7 linked regions of the Homo sapiens genome follow. The protein of the gene in region 1 purifies or fractionates together with the protein of each later gene. This does not show direct contact. Each region holds a gene or a part of one and is shown on either strand. Other genes may lie near its edges.

Region 1 (2,398 bases):
GCCCCATTATTATTGATTATATTATTTTATGCCCTAATCGAAGTATATAATGACTACAGCTTCTTCCTCAATCTCAATTTAGCAGTGTTAATAGAGGAACTTCAAAGTCAAGGAAAGTCAAAATCACCCCGAAGAGATGGTAAGAAGAGAGTTTATTCTGTTCATAAGGGAACAAGTGGCACGGATGGTGGGCAGGAGAATTTGGAAGCAAAATCCACAGCAGGAGATAAGACAAAAAGTCATACTTAATTCTGAATTAGTGGCAAGATCCAAACTCTTTCTCTCACTCTAGTTTCGTATTGTTTTCCAGCAGGCCACTACCTTTGCTTGTCTTTGAGAAACTGGAATGAATACAATGCCTGGCTTCTCCCAAGAGTGACTGGTTTTCCTTAATTGTCCCTTTTCTGACTTGAGGCCACAGAGGGAGAACCTTTCTAAGGTTTGCGTTTCCAGTTTTTGGCTGACTGCCTGCCTCTGTTCCCTGCCAGCTTCCTCACTTCTTGGACTGTTATGTCATCAATCTGAGAAATGGGCACAATAAAAGAGAGAAGAGGCAGTTGAGGCTGGTTTCAGAGAGAATTTTAAGAGACTTCATTAGGAAGAAGAGAGATTTGGGGCAGGTGCTATATATGTGAGATAAAGAGATAAGGGAGAAAGAGAGATGGGGATGCACCTTTTAAGAAGTGTTGCTAGGATGGGCATAGTGGCTCATGCCTGTAATTCCAGTGCTTTGGGAGACCAAGTTGGGAGGATTCCTTAAGGCCAGGAGTCTGAGGCCAGCCTGGGCCACTTAGCAAGACCCTTGTCTCTACCAAAAATTCAAAAAATTGGCCAGATATGGTAGCACGCACCTCCTAGCTACTCAGGAAGCTGAGGCGGGAGGATCCTTTGAGTCCAGGAGCTTGACGTTACAGTGAGCTATGATTGCACCACTGGGTGACAGTGAGACCTTGCCTCTTAAAGAAAAGAAAAAAAAAAAAAGTGGCCGGGCGCGGTGGCTCACACCTGTAATCCCAGTAGTTTAGGAGGTGGAGATGAGCGGATTGCCTGAGGTGAGGAGGTCGAGACCAGTCTGGCCAACATGGTGAAACCCCATCTCTACTAAAAGTATAAAAAAATTAGCTGGGCAGGGTGGCATGTGCCTGTAATCCCAGCTACCTGGGAGGCTGGGGCAGGGGAATTGCTTGAACCAGAGAGGGGTGGGGGTTGCAGTGAGCTGAGATCGTGCCACTGCAACTCTAGCCTGGGTGACAGAGCAAGATTCCGTTTAAAAAAAAAAAAGTTTCTGGACATCATGACTCATGACTGGGATGTCCCTTTGTTATTTTTTAAGGACATTGGTAAAAATTTAAAATGTCTTTCAAATATTTTTGGCTAGTATAGTAGTGTTTCTTTGGAACAAACTCTGTGCAGAGACTGGTTTGAAGTTGACGGGAAAACAATTATTTTATGAGGGCTGCGCTAACAATGGGCATCCTTGTATATACCTATGTCAGTGTACCTGTACAGGTATACCTGAAGGGTAAAGTCCTACGAGTGAAATTGCTAAGCCAAAGGATAAGTGCATTCAAAAACTAGAAAGATATTGCCAAGGTTGTCCTGAAAAATACTGTATCAATTTACACTCCTACTTGCAATATATGAGAGACCCCACTGCATTTGTGCCAACTCTGGGTGTTAGCTGGCATTTTGTAGTTGCTTGTATAAGTAAAAATGGGGTCCGCATTTTCTTCTAGGTTGACCATTAACAAACTAAATGTCCATCAATGGGCAATGGCTAAGTAATAAAAAAATCTATTGTATGGAATATTATATACAGCTAAAAATTGTATGATGAGGATCTGTATATACTAACTTGGAAAGAGATCCACAATACATTATCATTTGAAAAAAGACAAATTAATAAACAATGAGCTCATCACAATTCCTTTTTTTATAAAAGGAGAAAAATTCTCTTTTTGAGTTTGCAAGGAGAATAGGGAAGATTTTGACATCTTGATTTCACTCAGTTTTTTTTTTTTTTTTTGAGATGGAGTCTCACTCTGTTGCCCAGGCTGGAGTGCAGTGGCGTGATCTCGGCTCACCGCAACCTCTGCCTCCTGAGTTCAAGCGATTCTCCTGCCTCAGCCTCCTCAGTAGCTAGGATTACAGGCGCCTGCCACCACGCCCGGCTAATTTTTTTGTATTTTTAGTACAGACGGGTTTTCTCCATGTTGGTCAGGCTGGTCTCGAACTCCCGACCTCAGGTGATCTACCCACCTAGGCCTCCCAAAGTGCTGGGATTACAGGCATGAGCCACCGCACCCAGCCTGAAGACAGGTTTTATTTTGGGCAACATTCAAGATTACTTGGAGTCAAATTTGATTAATAAGGTAAAGATCAAATTTTGCAACATAAT
Region 2 (3,500 bases), on another chromosome or scaffold:
CAGAAGAATGAAACTAGACCCCAATCTCTCACCATATAGGAATGTCAACTTAAAACAGATTAAAGACCTAGAAATAAGACCAGAGGCTATGAAAATATACTCCAGGACATTGGTTTGAGCAAAGATTTTTATGGCTAAAATCTCAAAAGCACAGGCAAAAAAACCCCAAAGTAGACAAATGGGACTATATTAAGCTAAAAAGCTTCTGCAGAGCAAAGGAAACAACAGAGTAAAGAGGATACCTGTGTTGAACAGGAGAAAATATTCACAAACTATTCATCTGACAAAAGACTATTATTCAGAATATACAAGGAACTCAACTCAACAGCAAAAAAAATATCAAATAATCCCATTAAAAAGTAAGCCAAAAGGCCAGATATGGTGGCTCACGCCTGTAATCCCAGCACTTTGGGAGGCTGAGGCAGGCGGATTACTTGAGGTCAGGAGTTTGAGACCAGCCTGACTAACATGGTGAAACCCCGTCTCTACTAAACATACAAAAATTAGCTGAGCATGGTGTCGCACACCTGTAGTCCCAGCTCTCAGGAGGCTGAGGCAGGAGAATAGCTTGAATCCAGAAGGCAGAGGTTGCAGTGAGCCGAGATTTCACCACTGCACTCCAGCCTGGGCAATAGAGCAAGACTCCGTCTTAATTAAAAAATAAATAAATAAAATAAGGCCAGGCGCGGTGGCTCACACCTGTAATCCCAGCACCCTGGGAGGCTGAGACAGGTGGATCATCTGAGGTCGGAAGTTTGAGACCAGCCTGAACAACATGGTGAAACCCTGTCTCTACAAAAACATAAAACTAGCTGGGCGTGGTGGTGCATGCCTGTAATCCCAGCTGCTCGGTAGGCTGAGGCAGGAGAATCACTTGAACCCGGGAGGCGGAGGTTGTGGTGAGCTGAGATCGTGCCATTGCACTCCAGCCTGGGCAACAAGAGCGAAACTCTGTCTCAAAAAGAAAAAAAAGTGAGCTAATGACCTGAATAGACACTTGTCAAAAGAAGATACACAAATGGCTAAGAGGTGCATGGAAAGATGCTCATTAACCATCAGGGAAATGCAAATGAAAACCACAATGAGATATAATCTCTCCCCAGTTAGAACGACTATTATCAAAAAGGAAAAAAAAGAAACTAAAAATAGAACTACCATACAATCTACCAAACCCATTATTGGGTATTTATCTAAAGGAAAGGAAATCAGTATATCAAAGGGATACCTGCACCCCATGTTTATTGCAGCACTATTCACAACAGTAAAAACATGGAATCAACTGAAGTGTCCATCAACTGATGAACAGATAAAGAAAATGTGGTCTGTGTACACCATGGGATACTATTCAGCCATAAAAAAGAATGAAATCCTGTCATTTGGAGCAACATGAATGGAACTGGAGGTCATTATGTTAAGTGAAATAAGCCAGGAACAGAAGTTCGGTTAGAACACCACACACTGTTACTGATATGTGGGAGCTAAAATAATTGATCTCATAGAGGTAGAGAGTAGAATGATAGTTACCAGAGGTGGGAAAGGGTGTGTGTGTGTTGAGGGGAGATGAGAAGTTAATTGGTGCAAACATACAGCTGGATAGAAGGAACAAACTCTAACTAGTATGACTATGGTTAGTAAAAATGTATTCAATATTTCAAAATAGCTAGAAGAGAGGTCTTGAAATGCTTCCAACACAGAAATGATAAATACACCAGGCAATGGATACTCTAAATACCTTGACTTGATCATTACATATCCTATGCATGTAACAAAATATCACATGTTCCCCACAAATCTACAAATACTATGTATAAATAAAAAATAAACGGCTGGGTGTGGTGGCTCACACGTGTAATTCCAGCACTTGGGGAGGCCGAGGTGGGCAGATCACCTGAGGTCAAGAGTTCGAGACCAGTCTGACCAACATGGCGAAACCCCCGTCTCTACTAAAAACACAAAAAAATGGCCAGGCGTGGTGGTAGGCACCTGTAACCCCAACTACTCGGGAAGCTGAGGCAGGAGAATCGCTTGAACCCAGGAGGCAGAGGTTGCAGCGAGCCAAGATCGCGCCATTGCGCTCCAGCCTGGGTGACAGAGCAAGACTCCGTCTAAAAATAAATTAAAAAATAAAAAATAAAAATAAAAAAAACACAAATGAAAAGTATATCTGTAAAAAAATCAGTGAATACGGGACACTGAAAAGAACACAAATCTGGTTTTCAGGCTTTGGAATTATTGGCTTTGTGTGATTTAAATCTGTTACATTTTAATTTAAATAGTTTCATCAATAATTACCTTCTTCAGCACTTCAGTGTCAACTAAGGTATATTTAAATCATTAGTTACTAACTAAACACTTAAAAGAATAAATGGAATCACTACTAGATACATTTTTCTTCCAAAATCCCACAATCTCAATTTACAAAACCTTAAACTTTGTTTCTACTCATTCAAATGTTCTATTATTAATCCATGATGAATTTTGTTAAGCGAGGACATACCCTAAAACTTAATTTGCTAATTTACCTACAATGTAAATTGTAGATTACCTACATTACGCTGGCTACATTATGCACAGCTATCTCTGATTCTTCAGAAGAGTCAAGGGGAAAGGCGAAAGGGAGGTCACACCATTTGCAACTTCTCCAAGTTGTTGGCCCCAGAACCAGACTGTCGCCCATTAGCCGTTTTGATGATAAGGGGTATACAGTCGAAACAGAAAAGGGATTGTGCGTGCTTCCTATTGCCAGTAGAGGGATGAGCCGGGAACAAATAGTAAAAATGAAGTGTGAAATTACTTTGGCCATTTCTTGCTCCAGCTGCAGCCTCCGGTTAACCTTCTGCTGGTAGGTTTTGATGACATTCTCCACGTGCTGCTCCATGAAGAACTTAAAGGCGTATGGCGAGTAGCTCTTGATGCGTGACTCTCTCTTCTCTTCGTCTCTGCTGTTTTTGCGGACGGGAACGGGAGAGGTCTGAATCTGCTTTTTATCCTTTCCGCCTTTGTCCCCCTTGGCGCTTTTGCGGCTCTTGTCGCCGCCCTCGGGCTCGTTGGGGCCCGCACGGAGGCTCTGCTCCATGCCTGCGCACAGGCTGTCCAGGTCGTACTGCTCCGACTTGCTGCGCAGCAGCAGGTGCTTCGGGTAGGGCGGAGGCGGGCACCTCCGGTCTGGGCCTCCGTACTCCACGTCCAGCGGGAAGGCGCCTGCGCCGCCCAGCGCCAGGGCATGCTCCTCCTTGGCGTCCAAGCCCTCCGCAGCCGGGGCGGGGGCGGGGGCGGGGGCCGGGGCAGGCGCGGGCACCCAGGCGGGGTGCGAGGGCCCCACAGCCGTCTGCGGCTCCGGCCTCAGCACACGCACGCTCTTCACCGGGTGCAAGATGTGCGCGGCCGTGACAGCCGTCACGGTGTTGGGGGCGGGCAGGGAGGGCTCGGCCTTGCCAGGCGGACCGGGCCGCGGCTGGTGGCTGTTGAAGGAGTTGGTCCTGCTGGGCACTGGGCAGTCA
Region 3 (3,500 bases), on another chromosome or scaffold:
AGTGCTGTACTGTACCCGTTCTGTCACTTAGATGGTATGGCAAGGCCATCCCCAGGCCTCTTTGTTCTTAAGACTTTTCTCTTCCCTTGGGGACTTCATTGTCCTTAAGACCTTTCCCCTCCCCTGCACTGCACTTCCCCCTGTAGGGTAGAGGTTAATTGGTCACCTGACTGAAGTCAATATTCAACAGCAGAAATGTTAAACGATAACCCATCCCACATTCTTGCCTTGGACCCAGAGGCAGCCAGGCCCCAATCTCTGCACCTCTACTTGCGCCCCCATACAGCCTGTTTGCTGTGGGAGGATGAGAAGCCAGGTGGTTTTGCAGGCAGACAGACTCTGAGAGTCCGTTTATCTTATACAGGATCTCTTGACTTTTTCTTCTTGTAACCTTATTAACCTTCATTCCAGAGATGAAAAAGACAGACCCAGTAGGGGAATAATCAGGGTGAACACGTATATGAAATTCTTTCAAAAACCTAAAAAGCATTTAAGAAAAGAAAAATAGTTTTGTGGGTTGCCACCTCTATTTTTTTGTTTATAAAATGGGAAGGGTCTGGATTGCCCTGTGACTTAGGGTGTGAGGAGGCTTTCTCAGTTCAGAACTTGTTGAGAGATAGGAAGAGTAGTCAGACAGGTGGAGATTACTAATAAAAGCTAGGTTGGGGCTGCGTGTGGGGGCTCACACCTGTAATCCCAGCACTTTGGAAGGCCAAGGTGGGAGGATCACTTGGGCCCAGGAGTTTGAGACCAGCCTGGGCAACAAAGTGAGACCCCCATCTCTACAAAAATACAAAAAAAAAAAAAGAAGGAAAGAAAAGCCAGGTATGTTGGCACCAGCCTGTAGTCTCAGCTACTGAGAAGGTTGAGCTGGAAGGATTGCTTGAACCCTGGGAAGTCAAGGCTGCAGTGAGCTGTGATCATGCCAGTACACTCCAGCCTGGGTGACAGAGCGAGGCCTTGTCAAAAAAAAAAAAAAAAAGCCAGGTTGGGTAACTTGATGAAGATATGTAGGCATTGGACTGAGCCCTGAATTCGAGAGACTCTGACCTTGGTAAGATCAATGGTAGGAGCAGCAGGGAATTTGTGCTTTCTGGAGGCAGGTAGATCCTGAAATAGGAGAAAGAAAAGGGCTGAACCACACACAAATCTGATCATGTGAGACACTTCTCTGCCTTGGGAGGAGTGTTTGGATAGAGAGAAGCCAGATATGTTTCTCTAATGGAGGTCCCTCTGCAGGGAAACATAAAGCCAGGGGAAGGGGGTTTCTTTCCAGCCCTTGGCTTAGGGCGAGAGTACATCAGAGAACTCTGGACAGTGGCGTGGTCAGTTCATGGAGCAGGAGTGAGAGAACACAGCCTGCACTCAAGGCTTTCTCTTGGGGAAGGAGTGGGAATACTGGGTCTGTGCCCATTGATGTCCCCCTTTTCTTTGATCTTTAGCACCCCCAATGGGAACAGCCTCAGTGCCGCAGAACTCACTTGTGGAATGATCATGTGCCTGGCCAGGTAAGTCCCTGACTTCTCAGCAAAGCTAGTCTCTCCGATATGCCAATTATTACCACTTGCCAAGCAAATGGACCCAGAAAAACTTAGAAACATTTCGTCTCAGCGACTTGCAGACTGCTAAGAAGGCGACATGCAGACTGCAAAGAACCTTTAAGGCCATCAGGTCCTCTATTCAACATTCATTACACAGGTTCCCTAGTGCACAAAGGTGCACTTCTCTTTACTCATGTTCTATTCTCCATGCTGCAGACAATCTGCCTTCTCTAGCCTCCAACTCTTGCAAATGTTCTCCATACCCTGCTGCCTGGAGATAACAAGGAAGGATGTTCCAGGCAGCAGGGTATGGACAGTGTCTAGGTACCCTCTGCTTACTTTTCAAGATTAAGCTTCAGTATTAATTTATCCAAGAAGCTCTCTGGCTTTTCCAGCTAGGCTATGTCCCTCACTGATTCCCCTGGCCCTCAGGGCTTATCTCTGTCACTGCCCTTACAAATCTGTATTGTAATAGAATGGAGTAAGAACCTGCTTCAGGGTCCTTGTGTGTTCTGTGGGTTCATAACACAATGGAACTCAAATGGGCAAGACTCTTGCTCTTCTAGCAGGAGTTCCAGGCCTCTTGAGTGGATGGGGCAGCCTAGAAATCAAATGGTTGTGGCACAGAATGTGCTTGAGTCTCAGTGTGTTGGTTAGTAATTTGGCAAAACTGATTGCATGGAGCACTTCTGTTGAACAGGCAATTCAAGCATTTATGTGGTCAAGGGGAAGAACAAGGCTCCCAATAAACAGGGTAGGAAGTTGTTCTAGGTCCCTTTGAAGCTCCATGGATTCCCTAAACCAGCGGACCTAGGCATCAAGGACTCCTTGTTTCTCTACTCAGGCCTGAAACCTTCCGGGACCAAGAAATTACTTTTCCCATGGCGAGACCTGCTTTCCCTCCTGCTGGAGGAGGATCTGGGGGAATTTACCTCTGCTCTAACTCCTCCCTGCAGTTTCCATCTGAGCTCTCTGGTATTCACTGATATTCACTGGTAGGTGAAAGGAGGCAGTGGGGGGAAAGGAGAAACAGGGATAGCTTACACAGCAGTAGGGTCTCAGCCTAGAAGGGGCCCCCAGGCTGGCAGCCGGGTTCTCCCAGAACATCTAGGCTGAGTGTCTCTCCCCCTGGAGAAGTACAGAAGCCTGGCACCCTGGTTTCACTTCAGCTATTACCTTCAGGGATTTTTTTTTTTTTTTTTGAGTAAGGGAAAAGATCTCAATGTGGCTTTCTGATTAATTACCTCACTTTTTTTCTGGAGGTGGAAGGAAAGGATTGGGAGCCAGCAATACTTTCCCTCCTTTTCCAGGACCAGCTTTGTTTAAAGGAATCGGTGAAATGCTGTGGTTTAAAAGAAGCTCCCCATTGTCAACTGCTCACCATGACCTCACTCATCAAAGGTGCATCAAAACTAGGAAACACGCACACCCTATTGGGAAGGAATGCGTTCGTTTCATCAGACTGTTCCTAGCAGGGAGGACGGTAGGAGAGTGTGGGTGCCTATATGTAGACTCTACAGGATTGGGCAATGTGGGTGGAGAGCAGGCGTGGCTGGGCCTCACAGTAGGGACTTTGAGCAGATGGCGGGGGCTCCTGAGGTGCAGAAGAACAGCACACAGAAAGGAAGGAAGGAGAGAATCAACAAATGTAGGTTTCACCATTTTTGCCTGCTTTACCATCTCCTCCTCTAGTAAGTCAGGCCAGCAACCATTTAATTATTGTGAGGACCCTCGCCCACATTAGAGTCCTCTCCAGTCTGGCCTGATGAGGATTCCAAAGCATTGAAACCTGGAGAGGCTCCATGATCAGCTGGGAGCAGCAGCCAGAGAAAAGGGTTAGGGATTTCTTGTGTTCTGTGGTGCCGCACGCATACATCTTAGATAGCACTGTGGAGTCTGGTGGGAAGAAAATAGGATGTGAGGGAGAGGAGAGAGGGGCCAGGTGGGGCTCTGTCTCAC
Region 4 (3,500 bases), on another chromosome or scaffold:
AGGAGGATTACTTGAGCCCAGGAGTTTGAGACTAGCTGGGGTAACATAGTGAGACTCTATCTCTATTTTAATTGGGATCTTTTTTTTTTTGGTTCCTTTTTTTGTGGAGAACGAGGTCTTTCTATATTGCCCAGGCAGGTTTCAAACTCCTGGGCTCAAGTAATCCTCCCACCTCTGCCTCCCTAAGAGCTGGGATTACAGGCACAAGCCACTCTGCCTGGCCCTCCATCTCTATTTTTAAAAAAAGAAAAAAAAATGTTTTTCAACTTGAAACTACAGAAACTAATTTTCCAAGTATACTACAAAAAAATTTCATGATAACTGGAGACGTCAAACCAGCTTCCAAGCACTTGAAGAGGAAAAAAATAATAAGAATAGAAGCCACGTGTAACAGATATTTTTAAAGAACTGAAGATGTTTATCTTAAGAATTACTCTAAAATTGAAAGAATTGGTCTAAGATTTTACTCAAAAGTTTGGATGAAATTAATAACTGACATTTCTTGAGCATTTATAATATTCTAGGCACCATTCAAAATGCTGTGTATGTATTAACTCACTCCTCTAAACTTAATGAGGTTAATACTATTATTATCATTCTGATTTTATAGGTAGGGAAACTGAGGTGAGGCATGGAGCAGCTAACACTAGCAAGTATTAGAGCTGAGATTCACAAACAAACATATGCAGTCTGGCTCCAGAAGCCACATACTTACCTGCTAAACTGTACTGCCGCTTGATATTAGAGCAAATTAACCACAAAAGGACTATTTTGGCCATCTGGCAAATAAATAGCTCAGATTTATTTTGTTTCATTATAGTTTTATTTTTTCCTTCAATGATCAAATTCATTTTTATTATCCTTGAAATTTCCCTTAATATTCTTGTATACATCTCCTAGTCCTAAATTTTAAAAAATGAATGATACTCCGGGTTCTAATTAATTGATGAAACCTTATATGGCCATTAAAAATGATGTTTTTACAAAGATTTTTAAGAATACAGAGGAATGCTTATAACATAAAGTAGCACCATGTAAATTAGGCGGAAGCCAGGCTTCCCCCTCCCACCTCCTCAAGAAAACATCTAGAAAACAGATGAGAAAGTTTCATTGTGCTATCATTGGGTAGGAAAATTAGGAATAATTTCTTATGTACTTTTCTTAACTTTCTATAAATTTAACTGAATACTTTTATAGTCCAAAAAATGAAATAGATTTCATTTTTTAAAAGGCGAATTGGAGCCTTTCATTACAGAAGTATAGTCTGCAGCTCATCGTAATAATCTTATTGCATAATTTAGAATCACTTCCACAGAGCCCTTGGCCATATAAGTGAAGGCGGCACAGTTCAGACCTGCACTGTGATACGTGGCTGTTTAATTAAAATTTAAAATCCAGCTCCTCAGTCACACTAGCCCCATTCCAAGTGCTCAGTAGCCACATGTGGCAAGTGACAGCTTTTCTAGCATCATAGAAAATTCGATTGCCCAGCATTGGTTTGGAAGAAAAAACAGGGAATCTGGAGCCAGAAAACTTGGAATCAAGTCTGCCTACAAGCTGACACTTGCTGTGTGAAATGGGGCAGTTTACTCAACCTAAGCCTATTTCCCCATGACCAAATTGGGACTGAGGATAATACCATGTACCATATACAGAGGTTAAGAAAATTAAGAGAATGCAGGTGACAGTTCTCTGAAAACAATAGTGTGGTTTACCAGGTAGATGCTGCTTCCCAGTCCCCCAGCTTGAAGTCAGTCTAGCTCTTCAAGGACTGATTCCAAATCTTTGAATGCTTCACACCAAGAATTTTACCTGAATGCCACCATCAAAATCAGATTAGCTCTTATTACAGTTCCTGGACCAAGCCCGTGGCAATGTGCACATTTCATTTCTTCCTTGTAAAAAGCTTTAATACACAGCTCTCTCTATACAATGACAGCTCCTAAAAGTTTTCTTTAATAATTTAAAATCTTCACTGTATTTCCATTCCTACAATTAAAAAGACTCCCTTAAAAAAGAAAAGAAGAAAGCTGTGTTCACCAAAGAAATACATGGAGTTTGTCAAATTCCATATAACAAGGAAATCAGGTGGAGTTAACGGTGCAGGAATGAAGCAAAAGAACGTGAGGTTTTTACCAAAAATGAGAGCAGCTTCGCAAAACTTCAAAGCTGTCGGGGTACTGATGAAATGGAAGTACTTGCTCATTCTGATTTTTTTTTTTCTCTCCTAACTCACTTCTGGTTTTTGCTGCAAGACAACTTGACTATTTTAGACAAATGTAGGGCTGCTGCATTTCCAGAACGCCTCCATCCTATTTCTCATTTAAACCACCTCCCCTTCCCCGTGGCCTATTAATGCATACTTGCAAGGCTGCGAAACACAACCCAAAAGAGGCAAGATCCAGCGGTTCCCCACTCACGCTTCTTTCTGCTTCCCCAGGTTTCCGCCAGCTGTGGATGCCTTTGACATTATGACCGCAGAGGATTCCACCGCAGCCATGAGCAGTGACTCGGCCGCCGGGTCCTCCGCCAAGGTGCCCGAGGGCGTGGCGGGCGCGCCCAACGAGGCAGCACTGCTGGCGCTGATGGAGCGCACGGGCTACAGCATGGTGCAAGAGAACGGGCAGCGCAAGTACGGCGGCCCACCGCCCGGCTGGGAGGGCCCGCACCCGCAGCGTGGCTGCGAGGTCTTCGTGGGCAAGATCCCGCGCGACGTGTACGAGGACGAGCTGGTGCCCGTGTTCGAGGCCGTGGGCCGCATCTACGAGCTGCGCCTCATGATGGACTTTGACGGCAAGAACCGCGGCTACGCCTTCGTCATGTACTGCCACAAGCACGAGGCCAAGCGCGCAGTGCGTGAGCTCAACAACTACGAGATCCGCCCGGGCCGCCTGCTCGGCGTGTGCTGCAGCGTGGACAACTGCCGCCTCTTCATCGGCGGGATCCCCAAGATGAAGAAGCGCGAGGAAATCCTGGAGGAGATTGCCAAGGTCACCGAGGGCGTGCTGGACGTGATCGTCTACGCCAGCGCGGCCGACAAGATGAAGAACCGCGGCTTCGCCTTCGTGGAGTACGAGAGCCACCGCGCGGCTGCCATGGCTCGCCGCAAGCTCATGCCTGGCCGCATCCAGCTGTGGGGCCACCAGATCGCCGTGGACTGGGCCGAACCTGAGATCGACGTGGACGAGGACGTGATGGAGACCGTGAAGATCCTCTACGTGCGCAACCTCATGATCGAGACCACCGAGGACACCATCAAGAAGAGCTTCGGCCAGTTCAACCCCGGCTGCGTGGAGCGCGTCAAGAAGATCCGCGACTACGCCTTCGTGCACTTCACCAGCCGCGAGGATGCCGTGCATGCCATGAACAACCTCAACGGCACTGAGCTGGAGGGCTCGTGCCTGGAGGTCACGCTGGCCAAGCCCGTGGACAAGGAGCAGTACTCGCGCTACCAGAAGGCAGCCAGGGGCGGCGGCGCGGCTGAGGCAGCGCAGCAGCCC
Region 5 (3,500 bases), on another chromosome or scaffold:
CAGTTAAGGGCTGGCTGCCTGGGGGCTGGGAAATGGGCCGATCCCTCATGGCTCAGCCTGCCCTTGCTGGCTGCTTGCCCTGGTCAACTGTCCCTTCTGCCGCAGCCTTCCAGGAGCTCCCCATGGAACAGAGAGTCTCTCCTAGGCCACTCTGCTGACCACCTCCTCCTGCCCATGGCTGGCAGTTTTCTGTCCCTAACTCTTAGGGAAGAGGAATGGCCAGGAGGGTTGGGGGTAGAGTTACTGAATTTCCAGAGTTCAGGTCAGGACATGCATTTGGGCAGGGACAAGGGTACTTTCGGGACTGTGGTTGCTCTGGTTCAGTTTCTTAACTCTGGCACCATTGACATTTTTGGCTGGCTTTTTTTTTTTTTTAAGACAGTTGTACTCTGCCACCCAGGTTAGAGCTCAGTGGTACAACCAGAGCTAACTGTAGCCTCAAACTCCTGGGCTCAGGTGATCCTTTCACCTCACCCTACCGAGTAGCTAAGACTATAGGCATGTGTCACCACAGCAGGCTAATTTTTAAATTTTTTGTAGGGACAGGGTTTCACTATGTTGCCCAGGCTGGGCTCAAGCGGTCCTCCTGCCTTGGCCTCCCAAAGCATTGGGATTCCAGGTGTGAGCGACTGCACTGGGCTGGATCATTCTTTGTTGTGCAAGGCTGTCCTCTGCATTGTATGATGTGTAGCAGCTTCCCCAGCCTCTCCCCACTAGATGCCAGTAGTTCTCCCACCCCTGATCTTCCAAGTTGTAACAACCAAAAATGTGCAGACATTGCCAAGTGTCCTGGCGAGGGTGGGAGGTGGGCAGAATTGCCCTTGGTAGAGAACCACTGCCTTAGTCCGTTAATTTTGATTTCATTCCTTCTGTCTGAGCCATTATGGTTAGACCTTCTTGTAATGAGACTGCCTTTCTGTGTGGTCTGGGGTGAACCACTGTGGGGAGGGCTAATATATTAATACGTTTTAATTTTCAAAATTTAATAAACACTTTCATGGCACTCACTGTGCATAGAAATAAAAGGGCTGCATTTCATCTCAGCCCTTTTATTTCTTCTAGTGTACTGATGAAACTGAAGCACAGAAAGGTTAAGTGACTTTCCCAAGGTCACAGAGCTCACAGGTGGCAGACCCAGGGTTGTCTGGTGGAAGAGATCTCCTCAGGGCCTCTGGAGGCAGTGGGGTTTTTCTGCAACTCCTGGCCGAGGGTTTCTGCCAGCCAGCAGTGAACCTGGCTTGCTCCTGCTCCCTGGGCCTCCCATGCCCCTTCCTTGCATTGGCAGTGCCCTCATACTGCGGCCTCATTTGGAAAGTTCCTGGAAGGCATCTTGGAGCAGATGCACACTTGATAATGCTTTGATAGTAGTGCTGGTCTGTTTTGCTTTTTTTTTTTTTTTTTTTTTTGAGACAAAGTCTCACTCTGTCGCCCAGGCTGGAGTGCAGTGGCACAATCTCGGCTCACTGCAACCTCCGCCTCCCGGGTTCAAGCGATTCTTGTGCCTCAGCCTCCTGAGTGGCTAGGATTACAGGCACCTACCACCATGCCCAGCTGATTTTTGTATTTTTAATAGAGACAGGGTTTCACCACCCAGGCTGGTCTCAAACTCCTGACCTCAAGTGATCCACCCACCTCGGCCTCCCAAAGTGCTGGGATTACAGGCGTGAGCCACCGTGCCCGGCTGCTCTTTTCTTCATTTTTACCTTTTGCTCCATGGAATTTGTGTTCCTACCCTCCAGGCCTCTGCCTGTCCTGAAGGCCGCAATCCTCAGCTGCCCCTCCGGAAGGAGCAGAGATGAAAACTGGCTCTGGTTCTTTTCATTTATTCTTTCAGTGAGTATCTCTTGAGACCCTCCTATGTGCCAGGCACTGCTTGAGTGTTTGGGAGTACACCAGTTGTTGTAGCAGACACGGAATCCTTGTGGTCTTGGAGCTTTCATTCTAGTGGGGGGCTGCGGGGAGCCAGACAGTAGACATGAAGTCAGTTACGTCGTGTGCAGAAAGGTGCTGTGTGCTGTGGAAAAAATAGAGCAGTGTATGGGGATTAGGGATGAGGGCGGAAGGATAGTTGCAGTATTAAAGTGGTGATCACGTAGGCTCATGGGGAAGGCAGGATTGGAGCTGAGACTAAGAGGGAGCCATTGTGGTTCCCTCTGCTTCAGAGGTAGCCCCTGGTTTCATCTTCGTCCAGCCTCTTTTTCGGTGATCTCTCTACTCCTTGGTTTCTTTTGCTAAACAAATGAGCCAGTTTTCTTTCCCGAAGGATGTTGCCTTTGGTTGGCTAGTGGTGGAGTTTCCCTCCATGCTGTAGACATCTTGGTCACCTGTTCTTGTTCTGGTCTCCTCGATGAGGCATGAATGCATCCTGGTTAAAAGGTTGTGTGTACTCTCATAATCGCTTCCCTTACTACAGACCTGCAGCTGCTCGAGGCAGTTTTAATTTAGACTGCTCCAGCAGTTTAATTTGCTGATCAGCTTCGTGGGATATGCTTGTGGAACAATCTCATTTCTTGATTCCTGAGCTGACTTCTGTGAAGCACCAAGCATCGGGTAAGTCATTCATTGTTAGGTGCACCATTGAAGAACAGTACACATTCTTAAAGTGCTTTCTGCACATATTGCTGTTTAACGAGAAATCCCCCTGGGTCCCTGTGCACCTTTTCCAGCACAGGATTTCCGCTGTGATGTGATCTTTGGGAGTTGCTGCGGGTGGGAGTGGGGTTTGTTGATTCATATTTGCAGGAAACCAGAGATCAGATGCCTGCCTGATACCCAGGCTTTGGAGAGGGGGGTTATTCTTGGCAATGTGGGTAACACTGAGCTTCTGTGATAGATAGTATTGTACTTGGGGACAGTAAAATGGAGATGTGACTTCATGGCCAATCTCAGGGAGGCGGAACTGTGGGAAGTTGTGGCTGGTCCTGGTTCTCAAGGTGAGGGCATGCAGGTGCTTTTCATAGAGGCCATTCTCATTTATGAAGGGTCATTAGATATTTTATCGGATTGGTAGGTACCAATCCCATAAAACCATTGGGATGGTTAGGCACCGTGCGTCCAGTGTACTTCTGGATAAAACAACTGGAGCATTTACATGGCGGGAAAAAGAACAGGTAATTTGAGAGGCCTTCACATTCAAGAGTGGCCATCAAGGTTTCTTCCTCTCTGCGTCAGAGACCAGTCCAGGGAGTGAACTCTTTTCTTTCTGACAGGCTGCTGCCCTAGAAAAATGACGCACTTCAAATGAAGGGTCTTTCTTAGCTAAATTGCCCTGTGAGAGCTTGAGGAGCCGGTGCAAATTAAAGGCCTGTGTTTTGGAGATGCCCATGAATTAAGTACTCTGTTATCAGTATTTGGGTAAGTGTAGATGACTGTTGGGTAGGGGCATTTGTATGGCTGTCCTGGATGATGAGAGGGTTGGCCCAGTGTGGGATGCCTCCCAGTCTCATTGTTTCCTCCTTGCTGCCTCTGGGGCTTTCCCCTTGACCTAGATGTTGAGCTTT
Region 6 (3,500 bases), on another chromosome or scaffold:
TTTAGAAGAAAAACAAGTAAAGTAGTACAGTCGCCTGCCAGGCTGCCTCCTCCCACTTCTTCCCCAGCTCCTCAGGGACTGTCACTCTCAGGCCTCCTCTGCAGCCTTGGCTTCTTGCTTACTTCAAGCATCTCACTGAATTGCCATCGGATGGGCTGAAATGAGCATTTTATCTTCACTTTCAGCCTTCTGGAAACCATAGTCCAGTGCTGGTTATCAAGCCATTTGAGTACCTAAGAGCAGTAATTTTTAAGCTCCTTGGATTTTAATCTCTTTGGTATGTCATGGAGCCCACAGAGACAGAGTAATCTGAGGGTCAACAGTCCTCTCTTGTAAAATCTAGGAAGTCTAGGGTTAGCCAAAATAAGCCAATGCCACACTGCTTAAACCACCACTGACTAGAGCACACTCAAGAAACTGTTGCTGGGTTTTTTAAATTTTGTTTTCTAATTCTCCGAGACCACTTTATTCACACTTGTCTTTGGCAAGGCTAGCTTTTTACCTGGTAGGACAGTTACTTGTGCAATTTTTATTGCATTCGTTCATTTAACAAACTATTATAGAATGCCTTCCATGTGCCAGGCATTGTGCTATGGAGATAACAGTAAACCAAGGCAGTCCCTAACTCCAAGGAGGTCACTGTCTTATCTCTCCTATCAGACTGTGAATTCCTTGAGGTCAGCCTGTGCTTTTAAAACAAGTGTCTGTCATAGTGGCTAGCAGATAGAAAGTATTTAATATATATTTATTTGTCAAATGAAAGAATAAATGAATGAAAAAATAAATACATTAAACCTTAGTTTCCTCCCGTCCTCCAAGTAACTATGGAGAAGCCTTCTGAGAAGTTCCCACGGTTTTTTTAGAAGTAAGAAATAGATGAGCCTTGGTTTCACAAAAAGGGGTATAGCTAAAGTGAAAGCCAGGATCAACAAAAGATGGTTTAAGTTTTACTACCGAGAATTCTGCAAATTTAAGGAGTCACCTAGTTTACATACTCTGTAACCAATTCAAGTCAAACAACCTTCTCCCTTTTAGAATGAGACAAAAAGAAAGAAAAGGGAGTGAAAATCTTCTATTTTAAGAAGCAAGACTCTTCACCCCATCCTGCAGACAATCCAGCACATCTCCTCTGCAACAGTGCTCATGTACATGGGCCACATCCAGGACTAGTTTCTGGATTTCAGTAAAATTAACTTTGGTAAACTTCTGACTCAGTTTAGTAACAGTTCTAGGGAAAAAAAAGAAATTAGAAATTAATTTCTTGGTTATCTGTCAAAATAAAATAGAATTTATAGAGTATTACTACAGTAGAAGTTTCAAAGAGAAATGACTGAAATTCCCTTGTTGTTTAAAAAGAAAAGGAAACATGTTTTAAGGCTTGATTCCAGCCATATCTTTCAAGGTGGTAGCTCTGTAAACTGTGAGCTGGCCCCACAAATGGTTTAGAAATAATTTATCTTTTCCTAAAACATGTCTTAAGAATTAAGGTAAATTATTTTTGCCATTCAACCCTTATGCTGAGCATTTGTATTGAGTGGACATAAAACTTTAAAAGGATAAACAATTAAGAAATGGAAAATTCCATGAAAATGAGAACCATTTTTTACTGGGGTAAAAAATACTTCTGAGAATCCAGGAAAGGAGGCGTATGTGCAAATCAATGAAATGGGACAAGAAAGTGGAGCAGATTAAACATTTCAGGCATACCAGTGTGCCAAGAGAGTAATGTGGCCAAAAAAGAAGTAAGAAATAAAAATTCTGGTTTCCTCTGCATATTTCATTAAATTTTAAGAGTTGTCTTTGTAAAACCATTGCTCCTAGAGAAAATAGTGTTACTCCTGCTTCTGATAAAGATGGATCTTCTCTATAAATTTAGACCACTTAGCTTTCACTTATGGATAGCAAATGATAAGGGTATTATAATACTATCTCAATTTCTATTTTATTACTAAGATAAATTTTTTTAAAGTAGGTCATAAATTAATCTTTCAATTTCTAATTGAGTTGGAGGGTAGTTAAGGCATAAATCTGACTTCTTACAAGAAGAAATTTCAGTCTTTAGAACTAATTCTATTACTAAAAACTTCATTCTAGATTTCCATTGTCTACAATATGCTTTAACGTGTTATTTAACCAAACAGCAATCAAATAAACTCTGAATATATATACTTACTACTATTCGATTAGCAGCTCAGATATTTTCATATACTAGAAATGTTTTATCATAAAAGAGTTGATGAGTACTTTAAAGAAGTTATATAATTTAAAATGTTCTTTTCTCCTGACACTAGATTCTAATATTATTGCCTCAAAGGAATATTTTTATGGGAAGCAATAAATGCTATAAAGAGCCTTATAGAAGATTAAGAAACACAATTAATATAAAGAATTTCTTGTTAAGGCAAAAGTTTTAAATGACACTCAGTGAAGGCTGACTTATTTTGTAGAAGAGCTAGAAAAATATGGTCTAGTGATGAGGTATAATTTGATGGCAGGCCAGAACTTAAGTGTCTTAAAGAACAGGTAAATAACATAAACTTTAAAAGTCTTTTCTATGTATTATCTCAGCTAGGCTTTAGTAAGTGTTAAACTGACTTATCCGTTAGCTTCCTTCTGATCCTAAGAGTTCATGGTTCTAATCCCATTAGCCCTCATCAAAGGGGTCACAAAGGGGTCTTCATTCTCTAAAACAGCAACAATTAAAAAAACGAACCCAAATTGCAAAATGGTAGTTCTGTAGCTCTCACCCTCTTCCCTAGATAGAACTTGAACTTACATGGCTTGGAAAGTTCGGGTCCCAAAATTTTTCATTACTGCACATGCATGTTGATTTAACAAGCTGCTTTCTCTTAATTCTTTTGTAACTGTTGCTGCCTAGATGTAGAGGAAACAAAATGTCATGAAAGCATATACTAACATTTTCTTTACAAGCTCTAATATTTAGAAAAACAACAAGTATAGGTAAAATGAAATTCCATAAAATATGTTTTTTACTAAAAATTATAAATGTCATACATTATCGCAGAATATTATTGACTCATTTATTCTTTTGGGTTAGTTTATATGCATCTGTGCCAGACAAATTTACTCAAAGTACCTTGAAACAAAAACATAACTTTTATACTGGGGATCATAAATGAACAACTGTACCTTTAAACAGCTTAAAGACAAATTGAAGCCTGCTAATTTCTTAAGTGTCTTCTCAGTTACAAAAAATACGATTGTATCACGGCTTGACACTGAGAGTAGTCAGTTCTCAGGAAATTTTTGTTATAGGACTGCTGGTAGCAAGTAGTTAATGGTGGATATTATTCTACCTCTCTAAACCTAAAAAAAATTTTCTTCTCTAAACCTCTTTCCTAGTTTGTTAAAGGACAAAAATACTTACACCTCAAATTTGTTCTAAGGTTTAAAAAAACAGTAAGTATAAAGCATTTATCATAGTTCTTCATTTTTTCTCTCTCCTCTGCTCCTCCTTTTCTCCGTTTTCTTTCACTTAC
Region 7 (4,083 bases), on another chromosome or scaffold:
CACCAGCAACCTGGGGTGGTGGAATCACCAGACCATTTGCCATCTAGTTCACTTGAGGCAAAATGCAGCAATCCAACTGGCCTCAGCATCCTCATCGATGAAATGAGAGTGATAATAACCATGGTGGTAAATGTGATAAGTTGTCAAGGGTGTTTCATTGTAAATTGCCTAGGGGGTATTGGGAACTCACACACACACACACACACACACACACACACACACACACACACACACACACATATATTTCTGGAGACAGTTTTGCTCTTGTTGCCCAGGCTGGAGTGCAATGGCATGATCTTGGCTCACTGCAACCTCCACCTCTGGGGTTCAAGTGATTCTCCTGCCTCAGCCTCCTGAGTAGCTGGGATTACAGGCACCCACCACCACGCCTGGCTAATTTTTGTATTTTTGTAGAGATGGGGTTTCACCACGTTGGCTAGTCTGGTCTTGAACTCCTGACCTCAGGTGATCCACCCGTCTTGGCCTCCCAAAGTGCTGAGATTACAGGCGTGAGCCACTGCACCCAGCCCTGATTGTCAATATCTAATCAGGTTCCTCATTTTCCACCATTCCCCAGGTGATGTCTGATCACCTTGCCCTGCCTTCAGCAAGAATCTTGTTAGATGGGTTTAAGCGAGAATCCTCTCATCTCTGATGCAGTTTCCTATGCACTGGCGCTCAATCAGTGGATCCTTTCTCCTTCCTCATAAATTCCCAGTTGCCCATGCTGATTTCTGAATTGAGCCCAAATACTCTCCCTGACCGCAAAACCCACTGCAGTGGTCCCTACACCCATCATGATGCCAATAAAGTCGGCCTTGTAGTCTTTAACAAGTGTCATTCAATATTTTTTTTAACATCCTATACATAAAACTCCAGCCAAGTGAGGTCCTGATTCTTCTATGTGTCTCCGGTTCCCATCTATGAGAAGGGCACAACGCAACCAGGGTTTTGGGCAGCCTTCCATGAAAGCACCTGGAAGCCGGAGAAGGGGGGCGGGGGGACTTTTGACACAGATGGGGAAGGGCGGAGGCGCTGGGTTTGAGCAGCATCAGCCCAGAAATGCAGAACTGCCAAAAGAAACCCCCCTAAAAGGCAGGACACTTTTAAAGAAAATAAAGGTGAATTCCAGGCATGAGCTTTCGACGGGGAATGGGGCTTCCCCGACTCGCCCCCACGCCCCCCGCCCTTCTCCCCAGGTGCGCAGCCCGCGCCGCCCACCCCGGGCGCGGCGAGGCGACGGGAGCCGAGCTCTCTAGGACCCGAGGAGGAAGAGCTGCAGGGAGACAGTGCCTCCAGCGGGTGCTGCCGCGAGCGGCCAGCCGAGGGGCTGGAAATGAAAGTAAAGCGCTCCAGAGCCACATGGACGGAGCTGCCGGGGCGGCGGCGCCGGGAGCAGGATGCGGCCGCCCGTAATTAAATAGCATTTACTCTTATTATTACTAATAATAATAACGTAATCATACCTCTAGTCATAGCATACCATTTATCGGGCTCGGCGCAGGCCCGCGGGGAGCGCAGCCCGGCGGAGGTGAGTGCTTGGCGCGGCCCGAGCCCCGCGGGGCAGAGGCCGGGGACACTGCGTCCGGAGCCGCCCGCGCGCGAGGGTTCGGGGACGCCCGGGCCGGGCAGGGCTGGGGAAGAGGCGAAGAGAGCCCTTTCCAGGCCGGGGCCGCGCGCCGGGCCACCTGGAAAGTGGGATTTTGCAAAAAATAAATCGTCTCTAAAACCCCATTTGCTCCTTTTTGGGGATCCCGGTCCCCGTGCCCTGCCCCAAAGTTTAAAAGTTACCGTGTGGCCGGGGGCACCTGGCGCTGGGGAGACTTGGCCGCCCCTGCAGCCCCCAGGAGGTGTCTTGAAATTTTCGTGGGGCCTCTCTCTTCGGCGTCCGGAGCTTCTGGGGTGTCCAGATGCTTTGCCGACCCCGCGCAGGGGGTCTCGGGGGCTGGCAGGGGCGTCGCTGGCAGGGCCCCCCTTCCTTTTGTGTTGTCCTTGGCCCCGCAGCACCCGGAGTTGGAGGGGCCGCGGCGAGGGCCGGGGAGCGGGGCCGCCCGACGGGCCGCCCCTTTCGGCTGCGGCGGCCACGCGAGCCCGGGGATCCGGGGCCTGCAGCCGGGCCCGCGGGAAGGGGGCGGCAGGAAAGGGGGGCGCGGTCTGGGCCTGCTGGGCAGGGGGGCGTTTCCGGTCGCAGGATCAGTCTCTGGACTTCGAGGCCTGTGGGAGGCCCGCGGCCGTCCAGGGAGTGCTAGGGGGCTGCGGACCCCGGCTCTGGCGCCTGGGGACGGGGGCGCCCTGACGGGGCTGGGGGCCTGGGAGCCGCCGACTCCGGCCTCATACCCCCATCCTGCCCGCTGCGAACCTCAGGGCCCCCCTCCGGGTTTGCTCCCTCCTCCTTTCCCCTCCTTTCTCCTCAACTCTGTCTGTTTTAGGCGTTTATAAGGCGCCTGGTTGGGGGGACTTTCACAGACAAAGCCGTCTTCCCAGGGGGGAAAATAATCATATAAAAACAGCTCACTCTGATAGAACCTGATGGCTGTATTGCCAACAGGGCATTGACGGGGAAGACTAGGGGGCTAGGGCCCTGCGTGGGGAGTCTGGGGGCTCTAAAAGGGGGCTGGGCCTGAGTGGGGAGCTGGTGATCAGCGGTTTTATTTCTCGGGTTGCTAGCTTTGGCATCAGACTTTGAACCCCAACTTCTTGCCATATTCCTCAGCATCTGCAGTTCAGCCTGATGAAAATAGCAGAATGCAGATCCTTGAATTTTCACACAAATGAGATAATTATAGTACATGTAGCAACTGTGTTGGACACAAAATGCTGGCAGAATCTTTAGTTCTACTACCAATACTTCCTCTACACACATACAGCCATCCCCTCCGTGGTGGTCTTCTTTCCCCGTGTCCACCTCCCACAGAAGTTGGACTGCAAGGTGGAAATGACACCTGGTCAACAGTTGGATGGAGCATGTTTGAGAAGTGGGGAGACTTAAGGTGGGAAGAAAGAACCTGTCCAGGAGGGATGAGATCTGAGGATGGGAGAGAGACTTTGTTGTCCCTGAGCTGGGATAAAGTTTCTGTTCTGTAGATGCTGTGTGTTCTTAGCTGCTGGCTTTTGTATAGGTTAGACAGGAATGGGGGTTTTGGTAGATTATTGTGGGGCTTAGAAGCTTGGTGGGATGTGCTGATCTCTCGAGTCTTAGTAGGAAAGCTGAGATGTCGGTTGAGACATGGATAGAGAATCTGAAAATAATCCCTCAATCTGAAAATAATAATCCCTCAAATATCACTTTTTAGTTTATAACAAAAGGGCTTTCACATGTGTTGGCTCATCTGTCCTCCATAGCAACTGTGTCAGGTAGACATTTTCTAGATAAGAAACCTTAGGCCGAATTGTGTGTCTTGCTGGAAAGTCAGACAGCAGAGGTAGGATTCCCACCCAGTTTTCTGGCTCCAAATCGTCACCCTTTCCCAGAGTCCTGGGCCACCTTAGCAAGTTACTTTTCATTTATTTTATTTTATTTTATTTTACTTTTTTGAGACGGAGTCTCGCTCTGTCGCCCAGGCTGGAGTGCAGTGGCGCGATCTTGGCTCACTGCAAGCTCCGCCTCCCGGGTTCACGCCATTCTCCTGCCTCAGCCTCCTGAGTAGCTGGGACTACAGGCTCCCGCCACTACGCCCAGCTAATTTTTTGTATTTTTAGTAGAGACGGGGTTTCACCGTGTTAGCCAGGATGGTCTTGATCTCCTGACCTCGTGATCCAGCCACTTCGGCCTCCCAAAGTGCTGGGATTACAGGCGTGAGCCACCATGCCCAGCCTTCTTTTTATTTTTTGAGACAAGGTCTCACTCTGTCACCCAGGCTGGAGTACAGTAGCACAATTGTAGCTCAGTCTGCCAGGCTCAGGCAATCCTCCTGCCTTGGCCTCCCAAAGGGATAGGGTTACAGGCATGAGCCACCACACCTGGCTGCTGCAAGTTTCTTTCTTTCTTTCTTTCTTTTTTTTTGACAGAGTCTCACTCTGTTACCCAGGCTGGAGTGCAGTGGCATGATCTTAGGTCACTGCAACCTCTGCCTCCCGGGTTCA

What was found.
Region 2: the proteins of FBXW10 (region 1) and LATS2 purify together in Homo sapiens (affinity purification with western blotting; one study listed by BioGRID). This does not show direct contact.
Region 3: the proteins of FBXW10 (region 1) and PHGDH purify together in Homo sapiens (affinity purification with mass spectrometry, with the first as the bait; one study listed by BioGRID). This does not show direct contact.
Region 4: the proteins of FBXW10 (region 1) and RBM47 purify together in Homo sapiens (affinity purification with mass spectrometry, with the first as the bait; one study listed by BioGRID). This does not show direct contact.
Region 5: the proteins of FBXW10 (region 1) and GALNT2 purify together in Homo sapiens (affinity purification with mass spectrometry, with the first as the bait; one study listed by BioGRID). This does not show direct contact.
Region 6: the proteins of FBXW10 (region 1) and AFP purify together in Homo sapiens (affinity purification with mass spectrometry, with the first as the bait; one study listed by BioGRID). This does not show direct contact.
Region 7: the proteins of FBXW10 (region 1) and ZC3H7B purify together in Homo sapiens (affinity purification with mass spectrometry, with the first as the bait; one study listed by BioGRID). This does not show direct contact.

What each region holds. Positions count from the first base shown.
Region 1 is NC_000017.11:18,775,054-18,777,451, forward strand, and holds part of FBXW10 (F-box/WD repeat-containing protein 10), read left to right. Parts: intron 1-82; coding exon 83-139; intron 140-310; coding exon of another isoform or gene 311-393; exon of another isoform or gene 394-439; intron 440-2,398. UniProt on the Homo sapiens protein: Probable substrate-recognition component of a SCF (SKP1-CUL1-F-box protein)-type E3 ubiquitin ligase complex which mediates the ubiquitination and subsequent proteasomal degradation of target proteins. Overexpression is leading to degradation of CBX5 and CBX1.
Region 2 is NC_000013.11:20,985,087-20,988,586, forward strand, and holds part of LATS2 (serine/threonine-protein kinase LATS2), read right to left. Parts: coding exon 2,795-3,500; intron 1-2,794. UniProt on the Homo sapiens protein: Negative regulator of YAP1 in the Hippo signaling pathway that plays a pivotal role in organ size control and tumor suppression by restricting proliferation and promoting apoptosis.
Region 3 is NC_000001.11:119,721,934-119,725,433, forward strand, and holds part of PHGDH (D-3-phosphoglycerate dehydrogenase), read left to right. Parts: intron 1-1,442; coding exon 1,443-1,508; intron 1,509-2,385; coding exon of another isoform or gene 2,386-2,516; exon of another isoform or gene 2,517-2,536; intron 2,537-2,851; coding exon of another isoform or gene 2,852-2,942; intron 2,943-3,500. UniProt on the Homo sapiens protein: Catalyzes the reversible oxidation of 3-phospho-D-glycerate to 3-phosphonooxypyruvate, the first step of the phosphorylated L-serine biosynthesis pathway.
Region 4 is NC_000004.12:40,437,865-40,441,364, reverse strand, and holds part of RBM47 (RNA-binding protein 47), read left to right. Parts: intron 1-2,440; 5' UTR 2,441-2,471; coding exon 2,472-3,500. UniProt on the Homo sapiens protein: Single-stranded RNA-binding protein that functions in a variety of RNA processes, including alternative splicing, RNA stabilization, and RNA editing. Functions as an enzyme-substrate adapter for the cytidine deaminase APOBEC1.
Region 5 is NC_000001.11:230,073,738-230,077,237, forward strand, and holds part of GALNT2 (polypeptide N-acetylgalactosaminyltransferase 2 precursor), read left to right. Parts: intron 1-3,500. UniProt on the Homo sapiens protein: Catalyzes the initial reaction in O-linked oligosaccharide biosynthesis, the transfer of an N-acetyl-D-galactosamine residue to a serine or threonine residue on the protein receptor.
Region 6 is NC_000004.12:73,442,721-73,446,220, reverse strand, and holds part of AFP (alpha-fetoprotein isoform 1 precursor), read right to left. Parts: intron 2,875-3,500; coding exon 2,777-2,874; intron 1,229-2,776; coding exon 1,099-1,228; intron 1-1,098. UniProt on the Homo sapiens protein: Binds copper, nickel, and fatty acids as well as, and bilirubin less well than, serum albumin. Only a small percentage (less than 2%) of the human AFP shows estrogen-binding properties.
Region 7 is NC_000022.11:41,300,242-41,304,324, forward strand, and holds the start of ZC3H7B (zinc finger CCCH domain-containing protein 7B), read left to right. Parts: upstream 1-1,283; 5' UTR 1,284-1,531; intron 1,532-1,791; exon of another isoform or gene 1,792-2,128; intron 2,129-4,083. UniProt on the Homo sapiens protein: May be a specific regulator of miRNA biogenesis. Binds to microRNAs MIR7-1, MIR16-2 and MIR29A hairpins recognizing the 'ATA(A/T)' motif in the apical loop.